Linked DNA regions of Homo sapiens. The protein of the gene in region 1 purifies or fractionates together with the protein of each later gene. This does not show direct contact. Each region holds a gene or a part of one and is shown in the gene's direction. Other genes may lie near its edges.

Region 1 (5,353 bases):
TTGCATCATTTATTTTAAAATACATTTGGTTCAGGTAACGGGAGAACTGGCTGAGGCCTTCTTACGACTGTGTACCAAGCAGCTGACACCCACAGATGGAAATGTGCCTGTGGAGTTTTCAATCTTAATTCGAGTTCCAATGACACTGTCAAGGGAAAAATAAATCATTTTTCAATACATTTAACAATTTCCAACTCATTTATTTTCCTGGGCCCTTGAAAAATGTGGTGAGTTTCTTGGAATTATAGCCACCAATGGTGGCCAGCAATCTTTATTTTAAGAACTCACAATTCAAGTACTATTATTCTCTGGTTAATTATTTATTTCATCAATTTTTAAATAAATATTTATTAAGCATTTTCTAGATGCCCAGTGCTATGCTAGTCCCGATGGATGCAAAGGTGAATGAGACATTGTCCCATACTCTAATTCTCAGTCCATATGCCATCTCTAGTTAGATTTTGGAACTGAAATGGGCATTGCCAATGGGTAAAGTGGGCAATAACTTTCCTGTTATAAAGAATTATTTAAAACAGCTACTGGTTTCTAGATTTACTTGAAATGATTCTCACTCATCAGTGGGTTTTCTTTCCATTTATGATTAAGGGATTCCCCTTTGGCCTTTTTCACCAGATCCTGGGTACACGTCATTTGCACAGCTAACACGGCTAGATCTTTCCAGCCTGGGTAGAAGAATCCCGGAAAAAGACAGTAGTTTATCCTTTCTCTGCTCTCCTGAGCACCCTGTGGAAAGGACCATATGCTGTCTCTATTGGGGATGGGTGTGAGTCGCCTACTCAGTAGCTAACATCAGGGCCACTTGATGAATCATCGAATTAGAAACATGCATATGGAGGAAGATGCAGTCACTATCCCTCACCACTTACTTGTCCCACCCCCAGTATCAAAACAAATGACCTCTGGGCCTGGCCTAAATTCAAGAGGCCCCTGGGAAGAAGCTGTTGGAAACTCTTCCCCAAACCCAGGTCTCCATCATAGCCACACAGTGTTGCTTTCAAATAACCCAGTATGGTGTTTTATCACGTGTTTAGGTTACTGGGGGAAAAAAAAAACCCTGAAAACAGCATCACCAGGGTCCTTGACTTGGTCCTTATCAGCAGATAATCCCCCGTGGTTGGATTAAAATGCCTCTGACTCCCTGGGGTGCCTGACTCACCCTAGCCAGCCCTCAGCTTCTTGGCCAGCGGCCTTCGAGCCCATCCTCACCTCTTCCCATGACGGCCAGTGACTGCTTCTTTGCCCAGGCCCTCTGCACTAGGCCAGCAGCCAGTGGGAGCAGAGGGGATGGGAAGGCAGGTGGACAGACTGTGAAGTGCTAAGGCAGAGCGGGGAAGCAGGGCTGTGAGACAGGGTGGGTGAGCTCCAGGGCCTGGGTTGCTGTGGCCTGCCCTGGCTGTGATCAGCTGTCATTTCCTCTTTGTGTATGACACTGTGGAACATATTAAAATTTCTCTGGGATGGTATGTTTGGAATTCCTCTGATGCCCCACCTCACCAACTTACCCGGACAATAAAAGCAAGGTTGTAAGCCTTTGAACAGCTGGCTGGCTATATATTTCCCTTCTTTCTTTCGCATAATCTAATTCAGAAAAGAATCCAGCTAGACTGGCAGTGCCATGTCTGGGTACTTGTTTCCTGCAAGTCCTTCCTCCTCCACCTCCTCCCGCCAGTCCTGGAATCTTCCTGGGTGGCATGTGGCTTTTCTTTTCTTTTGCTCACCACTGCTCCCAGCCCGCCCCCTTTTCCCTTCGCCTGAGCTCCTTCCTTTGTCAGCTGGCTCTTTGCTCTGCCTGTTTTCCAGACAGCTTGGGTCCTGTTCCATCCGGGGAGAACAGCCCATGGGATCTCCCCATCTCCATAGTATTCCCAGGATGTCATTCTTGGCACCAGCTCTGCCGGGCTGATAGGACTGGGGGGCTTTTTGTAGTCCCGAGCCTGAATCCACTCACAGAGAGGAGCAGCCACATGGCTTAGCTGCCCTTTGGGCTGCCGAGAGCGGGGCTGGAGTGACCGGGTTGGCAGGAACGAGCATACCATCACAGTGACCCGAACATCTCCGGCAAAGGCCTTGGGGTGGGAGCGCTATGGGAATGCCTGGATGCACTTCGGCCTACATTAAGAGAAATGTGGTTATTCTCTGTTTCGGGGGAGAGACAAGCGGCTTGAAACAAAGCCCTCTGGATCCTTGGCCCCTTCCCTGCCCCCTTTCCCGGTCTGTCCTTCCCACATCCCTCCCTCCCCAAACAGAAAGAAAGAGAGACAGGACTTCTAATTTGGCCAGCACAGACCCGAATGTCTTTATGAAACCCATTTAGTGAAAGAAAGAGGGGAGAAATATATTCTGGGTTGATCCGAACTAAAAAATGCATGGGGCTTTGGAGATGGGGCGGGATTTTTTCTTTCTTTCTTTCTGTCTCTTAAGAGCAGAACAACAGTTTCGTTGATGAGTTGCAAATGGAAGGAAGTGGACCTCTCAATTAGAGATTCCCATTTAAGAGCCTCAATGTAAACCTCCCTGTGACATCCTTAAAAGATGCTGCTAATGTCCCTGGGACCAAAAGGTATTAAACAGCAAGCCACCAGGCGGCTTCCTATTCCTTTTCTTTTTCTGGGGGCTTTGGTCGTCTTTTTCAAATTAGCTAAAATTCATTAAAGGACCCAAAAGGAAAAATTTAAAGCAGCTGAATTAAAATGAGTCTTTCCCTGTTAGCCTGACAAGAAGAAAAAAAGAAAGGAAGAAAGGGAAAGAAAGAGAAGAAAGAACCAATTCCCCTCCACTACCACTTCTTGGGTTTTAATATGAATTATTCCATACAAGTCCCTAGGCTAGAGGATCTATTTAAAGACGCCTGGCAGCATGAAGGGAGAGGGTAAAAATACAACCACTCTTTTGTCCATCAAAGGTTTTCTTTGGGAGGACATTAAGAGCATTCCTGTTTTCTTGTCTGCCCCTGCCAGTGGCAATGTTCCAGCTGGTAGTATCCACTCCTCGCCCATCAGGTCAGCAATCATGAACTTCTGTGTTTAATTTCAGGAGAAAACAAAGGGTGGGAAATCCTTCCGAAACCCCTATGTGTGTGCAGCAGGGCAGGGGAGGCTGGAACTGGAATCAGTACTCTCTTGGCTGTGCAGGTTGCATGCTGCAAATTCACACACCCACACAGTTGAGTTGTTGAGGAAGATTGTGCCGATGGCATTATTTCTGATGCCAGCTTCCCTTGCATCTGCAAAGCTTTTTTCTTGTGTCTCTGGCAGTCATTTGCTTGTCACCATTCATGTGCACTGTCCCCTTCATCAGAGGTTCTCAGAGCCTGATGGTCAAGGATATGTCACTAGAGTCTTACCCCCAGACCCATTTTCAACAGTAAGAACGTGAAACCCTGGATGGGGTTTGCAATCTGAAGCAACTACTTTCTTGTTAGGAAGAGTGCTGACTCAGAAAATTCAAAGAATGGGTAACTTCCGTTGGCGACATATCCCCAGTGCTCATAATCAGGAATTCATCCAGTTGGGGTCCATTTCACCCTCATGGCAAAATCTGGACATAAACATTGACTAGTAGCTTTAAACTGGGTATAAGATTTGCAACAGATAACATTTTTGTCTTTTCTTTTTTCTTTTTTTTTTCCACAAAAGCTAAGAATTTTTCAGACAATTTGCTCTCTTCCAAGGCCTGGATCAATCCCAACTTTTTCTTTTAAGCCATGATCCAACCAATTGCAGTATCCTTTAAAAATGAAAGGGCAACAGGCTAAGACATTCAAGAAAGTTGATAAGCTGTCAGAAAATGCTCAAGGGTGGCCTTTCTACAGTGCCACAAACCAACAACAGCCCTAAACGTGGAGTCCTCTTCCATCCTTTCATCAGTAGGGAATAAAAATAGGGAGAGAGCAGGTCAGGGGAGAAGTAACAAAAGAGAAGTAAGAAGGATTATTTTTGATGTTCAAAATCTGCTGCTGCCCTTTCAATATTTTCAAATATCACAATTTCAGAAAGGGAAGGATCCCTTTATTTCACCCACTCTCCCTCCCAGGAAGGTGTTTGAAGTTGCTGTCTTTACCTGAAAAGGAGGTCAACTCCTCAAGTGAAAAAACATCCCCTATCTTCAACTCGAAGTAAAATGGAGGTACACACATTTGTACCTAATTATGTGGGTACAAATATAATTTGTATCCACAAACTATAAAGGATGTAAAGAATCAAAGAAATCCAATCCTTAATCAAAGTCCAATTTTTCTTTAAAACTTGAGAGGATATTTTAGGGCTCATTGCATTGCTGTGATTTCACTGCCCCCCACCAAATTATGAAAAATTACTCCTTTTCAGAATTTAAATTTTTCTTTTGAGATGTGGAATCCAAAGGCAGCAGAATAGTATTGTTACAGGGAAGCTGGCAGTCAAAAGACATAGACATAGCTGCAGCATGCATGGTTTAAGCAAATCAAGACAAGCAGAAAACCACCACCCCAACAAGTTCAGGGTTATCAGCAATATAGGGACACGTATTTTTATGTGATTTTTATGAGAACCTTGCCCCTTTGACATATGTCTGAGTCTAGGAGCATTCCGGATTGCAACGGGATTGAATTCAGTATTCAAATCCCACCATTGGGCAGAAAAGGCAAATTGAATGGGGAATGGAAAGACTGAGTTGCTCCTATTGTTTATGCCCCATTCCTAACTAAGGGCTCTACAGCTGTTAGGTGAGATCACTACCCACCATTCCAAAGTGTTGTTGCGGGTGAGGAGGTTCAAACGCAGCTTTGGAAACACTTTGCTGCACTCTTTGAAGAAAGGCCAACATGCTCATTTGGCTCTAGGGTAAAAGAGAGCCTGTACCCTGAGCTAACATTGGTCACCTCTCCTCCTGAGGCCATACCACAGCCAGCAGTACAGCAGCAGAACAAGTGTTTAGTTGTTTCAGCACAGGTATCCCCAGAACACCTGGCACCTTTTCTTTTCCACAGGGAGAATGTACATTCATGCATTTTGGCAAGACTGAGTCCTCTGAGTTGGGTGTCTCGGAACTCTCCTATTTTCCTTCTAAAGGGTCTTATGTAAGGTGAGCAGTAGAGTGTGTCTCATTCCTCATAAAAAATCCCCTTCCTGGGAGGGAGTGGGTGAAATGAAGGGATCCTTCCCTGACTGAAATTGTGCTATTTGAAAAAATTGAAAGGGCAGTGGCAGATTTTGAACTTCAAAATGAATCCTTCCTCCTCCTCCTCCTCTTTTGTTACTTCTCCCATGACCTGCTCTCTCCCTACTTTAATTCCCCATTGAAGAAAGGATAGAAGAGGACTCTGTGTTTAGGGCTACTGTTGATTTGTGGCACT
Region 2 (5,353 bases), on another chromosome or scaffold:
TTATTTATTTCAGGAGTAGTCCTATTTCATTAAGAAATTGTATATACTGTTATAATCATTAAGAAATTGTATATACTGTTATAATCATTACAGAAAAAACTGAAAATTGTGTTGGAGTCAGAGATGTGAGTAATTGTTTTAAGCTGAAAATGTCAGCAATCTTTAGTTTCTCTGTAGACTTTTAAAATTTGTAATTTTTAAAATTCTAACTTTGATAAGCTGTTATTTCTTCAACTATAATAATTACATGATCAAGATAATTCCTTTCTCTTTAGGCAGAACATAGAGAAATTTGATTATATTTTAACTTTTTTTCCTAAAATAACCCATATTAAAAATTTCTAATATAAAGTTATTAAATATATTAGTAATTTAAATAATTCTAAGCCAAATATTATTTATTTTTCTATATAGTAACTAAACAGATTTACAAAAAAAAAGTCTTGTTTTGTTTTGTTTTTACTTCTAGTCTTCTCTGACTTGAAGAACTGAATGTTATCTTTATTTGAATTTGAAGGAACTGGGAAAAATACAGTTTTTTTAGGTCATGGTTAATGTTAGTCAGTATCCATAAAATATCTTTTAAAAAGAGATGGAGAATTTAATTTTGTTGTAATGAGGGTAGAGGAGAAAGGCAAGATGGGGATTTTGAGGGGAAAGTAATAATTAATGCCACAGGATTCCTGAGAGGAGAGCAGCAAGTCACAGCTTACAAAGCACAGAGTAGAGACACTTTGTTTTTAGAGGTGGAGGGAAGATTATTCTAGAAGAAATGTTACCATAGCGGAAGAAGAAATAGGAGGAGGTGAGGTAATCTGAGATTATGAAAGTGCCAGAATAGTTAAAAAAAAAAATTTTGCAAGAGGGGCTAAGCAACCTATCATGAATTTTTAGGAGACGTGGTCAGTATGTTTTATGACTTTCTTTAGCAGACCTCTATCTCCAAGGAGGAGGTAGAGTATATAAAGAGGAGAGGAAAGGGAAGGAAGAGTCAAGCATGAACTCAGAAAAAAAGCAGACTGTCTTGTTTAGAGGAGATTAGCATATCAGGCTATGGACTTCAGGAAATGGGATTGTGGCATGTTTATTGGATACATCAGAGTTTCACAGACATTGGCCTTTTATTAATTGACATCCAGCAAGAGCAATTGGTGTGCTTAAAGAAGTAAGTTAAATTGTAAAGTGAAGAAGGTCAGTATAACCAAGATGTTAAATTGCATCATACTTTCCTTTTGATTTGCTTTATGGAAATCAAAGCTTAACAGGGCAAAAAGAAAATCCCACTTTTCTGCAAAATGTATAATGATAAAGAAATTACTTTTTTAGTGATATATTTACATTTTTTATGTTGGTTACTAAAGTAAGAGCAGCTTAAGGTGTGGACAAAACAGGGGATGGAATTCAAAACCCTTGATTCTGTCCATGTCTGTGTTGCCCAGTGCAGTAGTTACCACCTATAGGTGGCTATTGAAATTTCAATTACAGTTAAATTAATTAGAATTAAAATTTTGTGCCTCAGTCACACTTGTCACATTTTAAGTGCCCAATACCCTCGAGTGGCTAGTATTTACCATATTGGACAGTGCGAACAACTTTTCCATCTTCACAGAAAGTTTGCTTAATAGCACTGTTCCAGACTTTTCTCTGCCCTTAGGTTGGGCAAGATGCCTAGACATTTTTGTATTCCCTGTTGTGTTATCTGTAAAATAAGGCAACTTTGGCATAAGCATCACAATTCTTTGTATGTGTAAAGAAAAACTTTTTTCTATGTACATCAACAACTAAATTGTGCTTATTTTGCAATGAGGATTAATACTTTAAAATGGTCACACATAAAACATATATTGCAATTTTTTTATTCATTTGACATAGGTAATACGTTCATGCTAATAAATGAAGCATTTTTTTCTTCTAAAATCATACTCCTATTGTGCTGGGAATGGTTTCTGTTTCAGATGTCATATTTTGTCTTTCATTTTAATATGTAAGAATCTTTGAAAGATTTCCATTTATTTTGGAAAAGATACTCATTTTCTATGATACCATATTTATTTTGCAGAATCTTTCATGGAGAAAAGCTTATGAACACCAACTTAATATTCATAATGGTTGAGAGCAAAGGGACATGTCCATGTGACACACGACTGCTCATACAAGCGGAGCAGACTTGTATCCTTTGACATCAGAGCTATCTGGAAAGGAAAACCATCTTAATGCATTTTGAATCTTGTCACATTGTTTATATTCATAAAGAGAAAACTATTAGACTGCTCTGATCACCTCGCAAAGGCAGAATCGATTCCTCACTCAAAATTTGGTTGGAATGTCAAGAATAATTATGCTACACATGCCCCAGAAAAGGATAATTCACAATTTAGTTCTTTAAATCCCTATGTACTTGAATTGTGTTGGATGAGAGTAATGATGTATAAGTTATCTCTCTCACATGTTTTGGGAAATACATTGCATTGTATTTATTTTTAATCATGTGAAAAAAACTAACATGAGATTCCTTAACAAGTCTCTTTTAGCTGACGGTCCAAATCCTTGTGACATGGTTAAGCAACCCAGATACCGAAAAGGGCCTGATGTCTGCTTTGATAACAATGTCTTGGTAAGATCACACTTCTACTGGATTAAAATACTATAAATTAATGGTCACTGTCCGCAAGAATTCAAGGATACAAATTGCAATTTTAACTCAAACGTAATGTCTTAACCATAGTTTTTCTCATTAACATGACATACTTGCTGGTAGATTTTTTTCATTTCAGTAGTTTTCATGGTTAGCATAAACTTGACAGTTGCTTCTTTTATATGTCCTTCCCACAGAAATTGTGCTTTCAAACACAATTCCAATCAATTTAACTCATAGTAAATGTTAATTATGGTATATTTGTTGCCTCCATTTATATTCCAATCCTGAAGATATAAAAGTTAATTTTATTATATTTTTGTTAGTTATATTTGTCTTCAGTGAATTGAAAAACCTGTTATACAGCCATTGTCTTATTATTACAGAGTTCTAGTGTGAATTGAAAAACCTGTTATACAGCCATTGTCTTATTATTACAGAGTTCTAGTTTCTTTTGGATGGTTTCTGATGCTATCACATATTAGACTTCTATTATTTCCTTTAATTGTACTAATTTCTTTTTCTAGTGTTTGAAACTAGACCAGGTCAATTACATAGGGTTTGATAAAATATTACAAATCATATTTAATATATGTCACTTAAAGATGGCTTACTACTTTTCCTATAGTTCAGCTATCTTTCTCTAATAAATACTATTCTGATTTACTGTGTATTGATTATATACAAGGTAGGTAATATGTCATCAGTATGTACTACATTAGCTTTATGCTTTTAAAATTCTTAAGAAATATTAATCTATTCTCAAAGATGAAGTCTACATAAAAATCTCTGTCTACCTCTTTTTAACTAATTTTAAATACAATACTTCCTAATTCTGATTCTTCAGTGTGTGCACACACCAATGAATATCCAAACTTGTAAAGCATTATCTCATAAATTATTTGAGTTATTTAGTTTACCTACTCAAATACATAGCTGCATTTGTCCCAGAAAGGACAAAACATTTTCACAGATAATATTATGCAATTAGATAATATAAATTAAAAATAGCACAAAGAAGTAATAAAATCAGTAATGGGGACTAAAAATGAAAGATGTATTAGCCAGTCAATCCCAGTTATCTCTGTGAGGGATTATTGATCCTTGCTAGGGAGAGTAATTCAACATTGCAACTAAGCGTTTTTTTTTTCTTTTTAAGATATATTAAGTCCAGATAGGCGGACTCCTGTTATTCTGTCTACTGCAACTTCAGCACGTTGCCCATGTAAAATTATTCCCCCAAAGAATGTTTTATGAAGGGCCAAGGGTCATGTCACTCATTAGAGAAACTTCGCTCATCAACTATTTGTCACCAGTTTTTTGACACTAGAAATATTAAATTCAGATGAACTTGAAAAGTGACTTAAAAGCCTATTGCCCAAAATATTATTCTAGGAGGCTATATCTTATGATCAAGCCATTAAAAGGATTTGACCAAGACAAAAATGTTCAGCAATTGAAGCTCCTATAAATGGGTTGTGTGTGAAAGTACAACTGTTGCTCAGTAGCTTGGTGTGCTAATAATATCTTGTGTTTCTTTAGCAGTGGAGTTATTTTGGTAATGCTTATTTGCAATGGTCACTGTGAATCTGCTCTGGATGGAGACTCACGTTAACTGCCAGCAAATTGCATGAAATCTCATCTTGTATGTCTTCTGTGTTTTCTTTCCTTTTCCTATACTTGCTACTTTGCCCGTTATTAATAGGATCAACTTAAGTGCACAACGAGTCGTGCCTGTACCATGATGTCAGCTCCTATCTTCATTTTACTGCAAGTTTTCATGTGGTGTGGATGGTCAGTCACTTTCTCTAATTTTTCTTAGTTTTTGTTTTTGGCTTGAAATTCTAGAAAATCACCCATATTCCTAAATCTGCGATATTAATGTTCCTGAAACCAGGTTATTAAAATCTCAGGACCAATGTTGTTGTTTTGTAAATAGCTGATTTCAAATGGCATGTACATTTCTAATCCTAAATGAAACATATTCAATATTTATGTAAAAATCATTTTTCATAAAGTTTTTGTGTAAAAATTGTCATTACAGAGACAGATATACAGGCTTCATGGTATTTTATGAGAACTACCTAATGACAATTTTTAGAGGTGGTTATCTCAATTTATTTACAAAAGATGCTAACACAAATTTAATGCACTCTTTCAATTCCTTTCAGATTTTTCTACTTTTTAAAATAAATCTGACTTAAATAACTTTTTAGATTTTTTACTCTCAAAATATTCTTATTGAAATATTTTAGAATAAGTGCTTCTAGTTTCTAAGTTCATTTTATTTAATATACATTATCTAGCCCAAAATTATTAATTAACCTTTTAAGAAATTTCTGAGTTCTCTATTCAATACTACTAAAGAGATGTTTTGGGTCTTGGATTTGCATTTAGTTCTTCATTTACTGTTTTGCAATTTCTTTTCTAATGCTCTGGAATCATCATGATGTATTACTAGAGCACGCACTTTCGTTGTGTTTGTCATTGGTTTCCAAGTAGTCATTGATTAGGAAGCCACTAGATGGAGATGTGGCCATTACTATGAATGGAGTGAATTCACAGGCAGGGGTGATAGAGGGTGGGGAGTAGAATAGCAGAGGGAGTCTCAGAAAATAACCACAAGTCTTCTGGCATAATAAAAGAATAGTTTTCATGGCAAAAGACGCCAAAGTAAGGAAACGTTGCTTTAATATCTTCATATACACATTTTAAAAA
Region 3 (5,353 bases), on another chromosome or scaffold:
GGAAGGAGGCACAGAGGCCTGGCAGAAGCAGCTGTGTCCCACTCCTGCCGTTTTGTCCTAGTGTCCAGGGACAGGGTCACTGCACACATGAGAACATGTGTCACACACACACATCAGGCCGCCCCGAGTTGGGGGTCGAGGGTACTGCTCAAACCATCCTGGATCTCTGCCCAGGTTGAAGGGTCCGCAGGATTGGAGTCCATTCTCTGAGAGGAGCCTTGTTTGTGTGTGTGTGTGTGTGTGTGTGTGTGTGTGTGTGTGTGTAGGGATAGATCTGGACAGGGGATCACACACGTGCAACTACAAGGGTTGGGGGGAAGGGAGAATGGGGTAACTGATGGTAGGGGGTTGTGAGCAGGACCCATGAGTGTCCCCTGTAGGTGCAGAGTGGTGTGTAGGCATGAACGTGTGTGCCCTTGTGCCCATGGTGGCAGCTGGGGTGCTAGGCAGGTGGGTTCCATCTGGCTGGAAACACACAGGTTAGACACAGGTATACCTGTTGGGGGGTGTGCAGTGTGCGCATGCGTGTACAAGTACACTTGCCTGTGTTGAAGCAGGATCTGGCATGCCCCTGCCCCTCCAAGAGCCCCCGCCCCCACCCCTGCTTGCTTCTGGCCCCAGTTGATTAATCATGGAGCTGAGTGGCTTCCAGCTTATCAGGTAACTTAATAGCTGAATAATTCCAGCCCCATCAGCAGGCCCTTAATTGCTTTCTTGTGGCTGAAGCCTGGAGTGCATGCTGAATGGGTGAGCTCCTGGGGGACCAGTGCTAGCTCCAGGCAGCATGCTGGACTGAGGGCTCCGAGTTCCCAGCACCCAGCCACCTGGGCAGCCCCTCTCCAGAGGCTACCAGCCACAGCTGCCCTGCCTGCTCATGTGGGACCTGGAGGAAGAGTAGGCTGAACTGTTCCTTTCACAGCTTGGGAGGGGTGAGGATCAGAAAGTCTTCCTGGAGGAGCTGGGGCAGCCCCAGCTGGGCCCTAGGAAATAGGGAGGGCCTGGATAGGCCGAGAACAGTTGGGGGATTCTAAATGGGGGCACAGGCATGAGTGTCGTGGTGGTGGGTTCGACAGGACACAGCCCAGGTGCTCCCCACCCCAGCTCCCCGCTTCCCCCCAGCCACTGTCATCCTCAATGAGCTCAACTGGACAGAGGCCCTGGAGAATGTGTTCATGGAAAACCGCAGACAAGACCCCACACTGCTGTGGCAGGTCTTCGGCAGCGCCACAGGAGTCACTCGCTACTACCCGGGTAGGTACCAGCCCCTGTCCCCTGTCTACCCAGCACCTCGCCTTTCTCCATCTACCAGCCCACCCATCCTGGGGGCATGGGGCGGGGTGGCTTCTCTGTAGTCTGTGGCAGCCCAGTCGCCTCTGCAAGGTCTGCCTACCCAGGCCAGCCCTTTCCTGCCAGTCCCCCTCACCTTCTCTCCTCCCTCAGCCACCCCGTGGCGAGCCCCCAAGAAGATCGACCTGTACGATGTCCGAAGGAGACCCTGGTGAGCGAGCAAGAAGGGGCTGGGGAGGGACACCCCCTCAGTTCCCCACCTTTCCTGCCTGCTCCCCTCCCTCCCCATTTCCAAGCCTCCTAGCAGGGCGCAGCCAGCTGTATCCAATTTTCATTTCACACATGGTTGCCACTGGAAAATGGATCCCATCACCCAGGCAGGCCTCCCAGCTGCCATGCCCCCCGTCCACTGCCCAGCACCCCCACCCACTCAGGACTGAGAGATTGGAAGGGAGATTGGACCAGAAGGGGTCCCCAAAGGCAGATGTAGCCTCTGTAGGGTTGGCCAGTCCCTGCCCCACCCGTCTGAGCCCCAGATATCCCTCCCCTCTGTTCTGCCCCTCCGGCAGCTCCCTGTGACTCTCCTTCCCTGCCACCTGCACCATCCCATACACAGCTAGACTGTGCCCTCGGGGCCCCAACCTGAGGCAGAGGACACAACAAGCCACTGAAGCCAGGGAATGTGGCTCCTGCCCCCTCTGGGGATCACCTGCTCATATACCCCCTGGTACTTTTTCCTTGCTGAGGAACCAGACCATTCATGTCATGGGCAAGGACTGTGTCTGTTTCGTTAAATGTGGTATCATCGGTGCATAGAACCCTGCCTGGCCCACACAGTGCATGCTCAAGAGAAATGTATTGAATCAATATGTATGTGAAGGAAGGAAGGACCCACAAGGTCCCAGTGGGCCTTACCCTAACAGAGGCATCTCCTGGGCAGGTATATCCAGGGGGCCTCGTCACCCAAAGACATGGTCATCATCGTGGATGTGTGAGTGAGCAGTGCTGGCAAGTGGGGCTGGGGCAGGGACGGGCAATGGGCTAGACTCTGCTGCCCTGAACATCTTGGGGGATGGGCAGGAGAACACGTGAGGTTCCCCTGGCTCCTCCACGTCCCCTGCCTGACCTCTCCAGGAGTGGCAGTGTGAGCGGCCTGACCCTGAAGCTGATGAAGACATCTGTCTGCGAGATGCTGGACACGCTGTCTGATGATGACTATGTGAATGTGGCCTCGGTGAGTGCCAAGGTGGCAGACGGGGTGAAATGGGTCACCCCATCTGCCCTGCTCCTGTGACCATCACCAGCCCCATGCAATAGCTGCCTACCCCGGCCAGCCTGAGGCCACTCACCACCCTACTGTTCCTGCAGTTCAACGAGAAGGCACAGCCTGTGTCATGCTTCACACACCTGGTGCAGGCCAATGTGCGCAACAAGAAGGTGTTCAAGGAAGCTGTGCAGGGCATGGTGGCCAAGGGCACCACAGGCTACAAGGCCGGCTTTGAGTATGCCTTTGACCAGCTGCAGAACGTGAGCCCCATGGGTGGGCAAGTGGGCGGCTGGGGGAGTAGAGGGCCCTGGCTTGGTGTACCCAGGAAATCAAGACGGATGGCCTCGTTAGCACCAAACAGGCAGCTTGGACAGATAGCTCCATCTGCTGTGGGGGAGGAGGGCCAGAGGTCCAGGCCCACTGCGGGAGGGAGGCCCTGCCCCTGGACCAGGGAGGGCTGAGAGCTGCCTGCCTCCGCCTCACTCCCCTCAGTCCAACATCACTCGGGCCAACTGCAACAAGATGATCATGATGTTCACGGATGGTGGTGAGGACCGCGTGCAGGACGTCTTTGAGAAGTACAATTGGCCAAACCGGACGGTGAGGCTCAACCGAGGCAGGGGCTACCCTGACCTGGGCCCAGTACAGAAGAGGGCTGTCCCCTGGTGGCCACAGCAGTAACCTCAAACCCCCCACAGGTGCGCGTGTTTACTTTCTCCGTGGGGCAGCATAACTATGACGTCACACCGCTGCAGTGGATGGCCTGTGCCAACAAAGGTACCTCCCCTGCGCATCACTGTCAGGGGCCTGCCTGCCATTTCTTTTTGTCGATTGCGTATGTTCAACTGGCCATCCATATGTCCAGCTGTGTGTTCACCCGCTGCAAGACAGTGTGCCTCCTCCCATCCACGAGGCTGTCCCTCACTCTATCTGGGGGCTAACGGGTCCACCTAACTGAGCCTCTTTTTGCCCGTCTGTCTGTCCATTGTCCAACCGTCCCCCAGCTTGTCTACTCCTGCGTCTGTTTGCTGATCCGTCCATCTCTCTGTGCACTTGGGCCTGGCTGCCGGGTGGACTTTGAATGGCATTGCACCCTAAAATGAGGGACCTCAGACCTCAGGCTCCTCCCTCCCCATCTCTGCCCCCTGCTCTGCTTCCTGATACTGCTGCACTCACTCCCTCTCCATAGCACCGCCCTTGGCAGGGCAGAGGCCGGGAGCACTAGAGGGAGAGGACCCCAAAAAGAGAGGAGCCCAAGAGGCGAGGCAGGGCTGCAGACACACCCCAGGGGCAGGGCCCTCTGCACATGGATCCTGCAGTGCCAGCCAGGCCCACCTCTGCCTCTCCTTCCTTCACAGGCTACTATTTTGAGATCCCTTCCATCGGAGCCATCCGCATCAACACACAGGTGAGACTTGGGGAGGCCCCTCCTCCCAGCCCCTGGCTTCCCTGCAGGGACGCTGTGTGCCATGGGCTGCTGTGGGCCAAGGGCGCCCCCTCACAGTGGCTGGGGCACAATCCCAATGCCTGGCGAGACAGAACAGGCAGTGCCTGGGAAAGGCACTCATTACCCCCACCACTGCCCCCTCCCCAGGAATATCTAGATGTGTTGGGCAGGCCCATGGTGCTGGCAGGCAAGGAGGCCAAGCAGGTGCAGTGGACCAACGTGTATGAGGATGCACTGGTAAGGCCTCTGGACAAGGAAGGGGTGGGGCTGGCACCCTTCCCCCGGAGATGTGCCCACAGGGTCAAGACCCTGGAGGGCCCCCTTATGGGGTAAACCAAGCACAGGAGAAAGAGGTGGCCTGCACCTCAGTCCCTGCTCTGAACACTCAGGGTGGGGTCAGTGCTGGCCACAGGTGACTCCATCATCTTCCTCTCCCTTCAGGGACTGGGGTTGGTGGTAACAGGGACCCTCCCTGTTTTCAACCTGACACAGGATGGCCCTGGGGAAAAGAAGGTGAGGAAAGGGGAGGGTTGGGGCTATGGGTGTGCCTGGGGAGGAATGGGCATGCCCACAGCAGGTCTGAGGGTGGAAGAGGGGCAGGGCAGGCCTGCACACTGCCTGTGAGAGCAGCTTGAGGCCTTGTGGAGGGTGGTTCCCCATGGAATTGAGCTCACTGAGGAGCCCCCCATGCTTCTGCTCCCAGAACCAGCTGATCCTGGGCGTGATGGGCATTGACGTGGCTCTGAATGACATCAAGAGGCTGACCCCCAACTACACGGTGAGCATCCCCCTGCCCATCCGCGTACCCTGCCTCCCATGTGGACACAGGCAGGCTCAGCAGAGAAGACTGATGGGTATTACAGCGCCTCCATGGAGACCTCTGAGTTCAGGGGTCGGGGAAGGCTTCCCCAGGAGGTGACCTTGGGTCTAGAACAAGGTGACCTTGGGTTGGCAAACTTTCTGTAAAGGGCCAGACTGAATATTTTAGGCTTTGCAGACCTACATACCCATCTCTTACTCGGTTGCACTGTTGTATTGTGAAAGCAGCCACAAACAAAACATAAACAATGGGCATGGCTATGTTCCAATTTAATTTTATTTGTGGATACTGATATTTGAATTTCAGATAATTTTCACATGTCACAAAATAGAATTCTTCCTTTGATGTTTTTTCCAGCCATTTAAAAACATAAAACCATTCTTAGCTCATGGCCACATAGTAATGGGCAGCAGGCCAGACCTGGCCCATGCACATAGGCAGGAGTGTCCCAGGCAGAAAGGAAAGGAGGGGATGGCGTACATTGGAGGCAGAGGGAATTCTCTGGCCAAGGGCCCAAAGGTGAAAAACAATC
Region 4 (5,353 bases), on another chromosome or scaffold:
TTTTTCTTTTTCTGAGACAGAGTCTTGCTTTGTTGCCCAGGCTGGAGTGCAGTGGCACTATGATAGCCCACTGTAACCTCGACCTCCTGGGCTTAAGTGATCCCCCAACCTCAGCCCCCTGAGTAGCTGGGTATACAGGCATGCACCACCATGCCCAGCTAATTTAAAAAAGATTTTTTTTTTAAGGAGATGGAGTCATACTATGTTGCCCAGGCTGGCCGCAAGTGATCCTCCCACCTCAGCCTCCCAGAGAGCTTCAATTACAGGCATGAGCCATTGTGCCTAGCCACATACCTATTTAAAGTTGAAAAATAACTTATTCTGTTAAAATTACGAAGTAATTATTAATTGAGGGTTCCCAAACTGTGTTTCAGGCAAGACATTATAATTATGTTCTATCAATAAAAGGTTCAAGCCTTGGGAGGCTGAGGTGGGAAGATCACATGAGGCCGAAGTTCAAGCCAGCCTGAGCAACATAGGGATACTTTGTATCATAAATAAATCAACAACCAAACTAAATAAACCAATATGTTTGGGAACTGATACATACCCCACCCCATTTTTGGTTATTTAATAGTACATAATAACATTAAAGGCTCTAAAAAGTAATAAAGTTTTTTAGCTGAACATTCTAGGTAATCTGTGAATATGTCTTGGTGGAAAAACATGTTTTGCAGCATTGGGCAAGAAAAGGACTGATAGTTCCAGGGATTTGTTCATTTTTCTCTTTGTTTCCTCCCACTATAGATGACACATTTCTTATCCCCAGCTTACTTACAGAATATTTGCAAAACATGGAACACTTGTACTTTCTAAGAAACTCTGAGACCATCACTGCTAGAAAGTTAAGATTTATAAAACTTTTTTGAAACTTTAGAATCTAGAGTATCAAGTATATCATATCTTAGAATTAATAGATATAATTAGCATACTTTCCTGAAATGTGTCATTCTTCCTAGAATTAGATTTTGTGAATATTTTATTTCAGTATGATCTTAATTGTTTTGAATGTTTTCTCCTATTCAAAGAGAAATGGTTTAGAAAGCAAGATATAGAATTTATGGTTCTTAAGGGATGTTTTATAACATATTAAACAATATTAGTGTTTTTTATAAATGTACTTGTTTTTACAAACAGATTCTGAACGGTTGCATAGCTTGTATGAACACATTGACATATGAAGAGAAACAAATATGCTTTTTCTCTCCTGCTTGACTAGGATATAATGACTACATCAAGATGAGCATTAATCCTAAGAAACTTGTAATGGGTGTTCCTTGGTATGGTTATGATTATACCTGCCTGAATCTGTCTGAGGTAGGAACAGTCATTTGTTACATAATTTTTATTATCTATTATATTTTTTAGAGTCTCTCTGTTTTCATTAGAAATATATAAACTTTAGAATCTCTGAAATATAGTTTGAGATAAAAATTATTTATTTTTACTTCTATGAAAGCTTATGATTATCATACATTTTCATTTAATAATGAAATTTATTTTAACCTTTTTTCTGTATAGTCAGGTTTTCTATGGTATATGTTTTATTTCTAAATAATTTATATATTTTTGGTTTGGCTTTTAAGAATTGCATAATTGATAATATATAACATGAGCACTTTTGCATTTCTAGGATCATGTTTGTACCATTGCAAAAGTCCCTTTCCGGGGGGCTCCTTGTAGTGACGCTGCAGGACGTCAGGTGCCCTACAAAACGATCATGAAGCAAATAAATAGTTCTATTTCTGGAAACCTATGGGATAAAGATCAGCGGGCTCCTTATTATAACTATAAAGTAAGACTTTTCGTAAGTTATGAGCATTTATTCTATTAGTTTTTGTAATTATTTTCATAATTAGATGTTTGATATCAAGAATTTCTATCAGTTTTCTTTTAGGGCATAACATGCAGACTGCTATTTACATGAGTAAACTTGTCTTTGAATCTGTAATCAGGAACTTTAGTTCCCTGGCGAGCAATTGGAGTTTTGCTAATGGTGAATCTACTCTGCTTGGGCCACTTGTCATTTAGATGATGCCATAAAAATGTGCATATCACAAACAGGATTTCTGTAACAGTTGACAATTATGTTAGGATGACTGTTGATTTTGAATGGGTTTTGGGCCAAAATAAGTTACTATCTCTGAAAGCCTCCATTTCAAAGTGGCCTACAGATTCTGATGAGACTTACATAGGGAGGAATGAGGCTGAGAACAGAAGAGGTGTCATAATCGACTTTACAATGGAAAAACTATCATTTTCAATTTATTTTATAATTAAATTATAAAGCAATGTCAAAACTTACAAAAATATTACATAAAGGAAACCTGAAGAAATACACTAAGTGATTAGCAATTCTGTCAAGTAGTGTTTAATAGGAATTGCTATACCAAAATGGCAAAGAAAAGTTACAGTTTTCATAATTTACCTTTAGCATTATAAAGGCTCTTCCACAGCTCAAAAATCTAAGTACAAATCCTCTTTGAATTTATTTCAGATTATGTTACTTTAAAAGGAGTACTAAAATGATATAAGTGAAGTTCAGCAAGGATTTATATGCTTAATTAATGGTCTGGTACCCATTTATAAAAAAATGACTGCAAACACACTACATGTCATAAATTATAATTGATATACATGTGTATGCCTCCACAGAGAGCTTTAGTGTAGAGCTTTCTAAACTTTGGAACTGAAAGTATATACCTATTAGTGAAACTAGAGTGTATTGTAATCTTATCTTTCCTAAACAGTGTTTATATTAGTCTGTCCTGGGAACTGTTAATATTACACACACAGATGCACATGTGTGCAAAATATACACACGTGTGCCATGGCCAAATATATTTAGAAAAACACTATATACTGTACGCCCCTCTTGGAGATTTGTAACAACAATTATATTAATGGGTTTGAGAAGTGCTGTAATACATAAGGTAGTTTAATTGTTTGACATATAATCTTGTTTCACAGCATTCTTAGAAACATGCAGTTCTTAGAAACTGTTTCATGGATATGGTTTGTTAAAAGTTATGGTAACCAATTACATATACAGGCATACCTTAGAGATATTGCAGAGTCAGTTCTAGACCACCACAATAAAGTAAATATAGCAATAAAGCAAGTGACATGAATTTTTTGTTTCCCTGTGCATATAAAAGTTATGTTTATACTATACTGTAGTCTGTTAAGTGTGTAATAGCATTATGTCTAAAAAAAGTACATACCTTAATTTAAAAATACTTTATTGCTAAAAAAATGATAACGATCATCTGAGCCTTTATCAAGTTATAACCTGCTTGCTGGAAGAGTGTCTTGCCTTGTCATTGATGGCTGCTGACTGATCAGGGTGGTGGTTGCTGAAGGTTGGGGTGGCTATGGCAATTTCTTAAAATAAGACAACAGTGAAGTTTGCCACGTCAATTGACTCTTCCTTTCACGAAAGATTTCTGTGTAAAACGTGATGCTATTTGATTGCATTTTACCCACAGTAGAACTTCTTTCAAAATTGGAGTCAACCCCATCAAACTCTGCTGCTGCTTTATTAATAAGTTTATAGAATATTCTAAATCCTTTGCTGTTATTTGAACAATGTTCACAGCATTTTACCAGGAATAGATTCCATTCTCAAGAAACTACTTTCTTTGCGTATTCATAAGAAGTAGCTCCTCATCTATTCAAATTTTATCACGAGATTGTAGCAATTGAGTCACATATTTAGGATTCACCTCCAATTCTAATTCTCTTGCTGTTTCCACTACCTCTGCAGTTACTTCCTTCACTGAAGTCTTGAACCCCTCAATGTCATCCATGAGGGTTGTAACCCACTTCTTCCAAACTCCTGTTAATGTTGATATTTTGACCTCCTCCCATGCATGAATCATGAATGTTCTTAATGGCATCTAGAATGGTGAATCCTTTCCAAAAAGCTTTCAGTTTACTTTGGCCAGATCCATGAAAGGAGTTACTGTCTTTGGCTGCTACAGCCTTACAAAATCTATTTCTTAATTAATAAGAGTTAAAAGTTGAAATTACTCCTTGTTCCATGGGCTGCAGAATGGATGTTGTGTTAGCAGGCATGAAAATAACATTCATCTTGTGTTCTCCATCAGAGCTCTTGGGTGACCAAGTGCATTGTCAATGAGCAGTAATATTTTGAAAGAAATCTCTTTTTTTTCTTAGTACATCTCAGCAGTGGGCTTAAGATATTCAGTAAACAGATGTGCTGTGAGCCAGGCTTTGTTATTCCATTTATAGATCACAGGCAGAGTCAATTTAGCATAATTCTTAAGTGCCATAGGATTTTTGGAATGGTAAATGAACACTGGCTTCAACTTAAAGTTACCACCCTCATTAGTCCCTAACAAGAGAATCAGCCTGTACTTTGAGCTTTAAAGCCAGGTATTGACTTCTCCTGTCTAGCTAGCAAAGTCTTAAATGGCATCATCTTCTTCCAATATAAGATTTATTTGAAGAAAGGGGTCTCTGCCTTTTAAAATGTGTTTGATCATAATTTTACCCGACATGGGAGGTTTCAGAATGAAAACCCAAAGATACAGGAAAAACTGTCCATTTTTGTGCTTAGGTTCAACGAAGTATGGACAGCTATGTAGAACTGTGATCAGAATAAAGGGCATGAGCTAATGCAAACAGACTGAGTGGGAAAACTCAGCAAGGACTGTCTGTTCAGATTTTTCTTGGCCTCTCTGTGAAGGATTTCTTCTCATGGGTATGGGGTAGGACCTCTCTGGAATGAGGGTCTTAATTTCTTTATGGCCAGCTATTACACAGAAAGGTGGTGGTGGGAAAGGTTAGAGTAACATTTTTAGACTTTATGGCTGGTTTTGGGGAAAAGAGGCTCTAGTTTCTATGACCCATTTTAGGGAAGAGGGATTCTAGTTTCTCTTTCTTTCTTTCTTTCCTTTCTTTCTTTCTTTCTTTCTTTCTTTCTTTCTTTTTTTTTTTTTTTTTGAGACAGAGTCTTGCTCTGTCGCCCAGGCTGTAGTGCAGTGGCGCCCTCTGGGTTCACTGCACCCTCTGCCTCCTGGGTTCAAGCAATTCTACTCCTCAGCTTCCCCCATAGGTGGGATTACAGGTGCCCGCCACTATGCCGGGCTAATTTTTATATTTTTAGTAGAGATGGGGTTTCACTATGTAGGCCAGTCTGGTCTCAAACTCCTGACCTCAAGTGATCCGCCTACCTTGGCCTCCCAAAGGCCTGGGATTACACGCATGGGCCACTGCACCTGGCCAACACATTGTTTAAGCTCTTAGAATTCAGGAAACATTTTGGTGAGCCTTGAAGGCCATTTAATGTCACTTCAGAAAACAATCTAATTATAACTATTTTCTTCCT

The links. The genes of interacting proteins can lie anywhere in the genome.
Region 2: the proteins of NDP (region 1) and CACNA2D1 purify together in Homo sapiens (affinity purification with mass spectrometry; one large-scale study listed by BioGRID and IntAct). This does not show direct contact.
Region 3: the proteins of NDP (region 1) and CACNA2D2 purify together in Homo sapiens (affinity purification with mass spectrometry; one large-scale study listed by BioGRID and IntAct). This does not show direct contact.
Region 4: the proteins of NDP (region 1) and CTBS purify together in Homo sapiens (affinity purification with mass spectrometry; one large-scale study listed by BioGRID and IntAct). This does not show direct contact.

The regions. Positions count from the first base shown.
Region 1 is NC_000023.11:43,966,237-43,971,589, reverse strand, and holds part of NDP (norrin precursor), read left to right. Parts: intron 1-37; exon of another isoform or gene 38-145; intron 146-1,969; exon of another isoform or gene 1,970-2,130; intron 2,131-5,353. UniProt on the Homo sapiens protein: Activates the canonical Wnt signaling pathway through FZD4 and LRP5 coreceptor.
Region 2 is NC_000007.14:81,956,536-81,961,888, reverse strand, and holds part of CACNA2D1 (voltage-dependent calcium channel subunit alpha-2/delta-1 isoform 1 preproprotein), read left to right. Parts: intron 1-2,059; coding exon 2,060-2,169; intron 2,170-2,531; coding exon 2,532-2,614; intron 2,615-4,340; coding exon of another isoform or gene 4,341-4,457; exon of another isoform or gene 4,458-4,844; intron 4,845-5,353. UniProt on the Homo sapiens protein: The alpha-2/delta subunit of voltage-dependent calcium channels regulates calcium current density and activation/inactivation kinetics of the calcium channel. Plays an important role in excitation-contraction coupling.
Region 3 is NC_000003.12:50,376,893-50,382,245, reverse strand, and holds part of CACNA2D2 (voltage-dependent calcium channel subunit alpha-2/delta-2 isoform b precursor), read left to right. Parts: intron 1-1,119; coding exon 1,120-1,251; intron 1,252-1,440; coding exon 1,441-1,498; intron 1,499-2,227; coding exon 2,228-2,278; intron 2,279-2,421; coding exon 2,422-2,521; intron 2,522-2,655; coding exon 2,656-2,814; intron 2,815-3,046; coding exon 3,047-3,154; intron 3,155-3,252; coding exon 3,253-3,331; intron 3,332-3,912; coding exon 3,913-3,962; intron 3,963-4,148; coding exon 4,149-4,238; intron 4,239-4,442; coding exon 4,443-4,514; intron 4,515-4,704; coding exon 4,705-4,779; intron 4,780-5,353. UniProt on the Homo sapiens protein: The alpha-2/delta subunit of voltage-dependent calcium channels regulates calcium current density and activation/inactivation kinetics of the calcium channel.
Region 4 is NC_000001.11:84,559,699-84,565,051, reverse strand, and holds part of CTBS (di-N-acetylchitobiase precursor), read left to right. Parts: intron 1-1,219; coding exon 1,220-1,317; intron 1,318-1,633; coding exon 1,634-1,795; intron 1,796-5,353. UniProt on the Homo sapiens protein: Involved in the degradation of asparagine-linked glycoproteins. Hydrolyze of N-acetyl-beta-D-glucosamine (1-4)N-acetylglucosamine chitobiose core from the reducing end of the bond, it requires prior cleavage by glycosylasparaginase.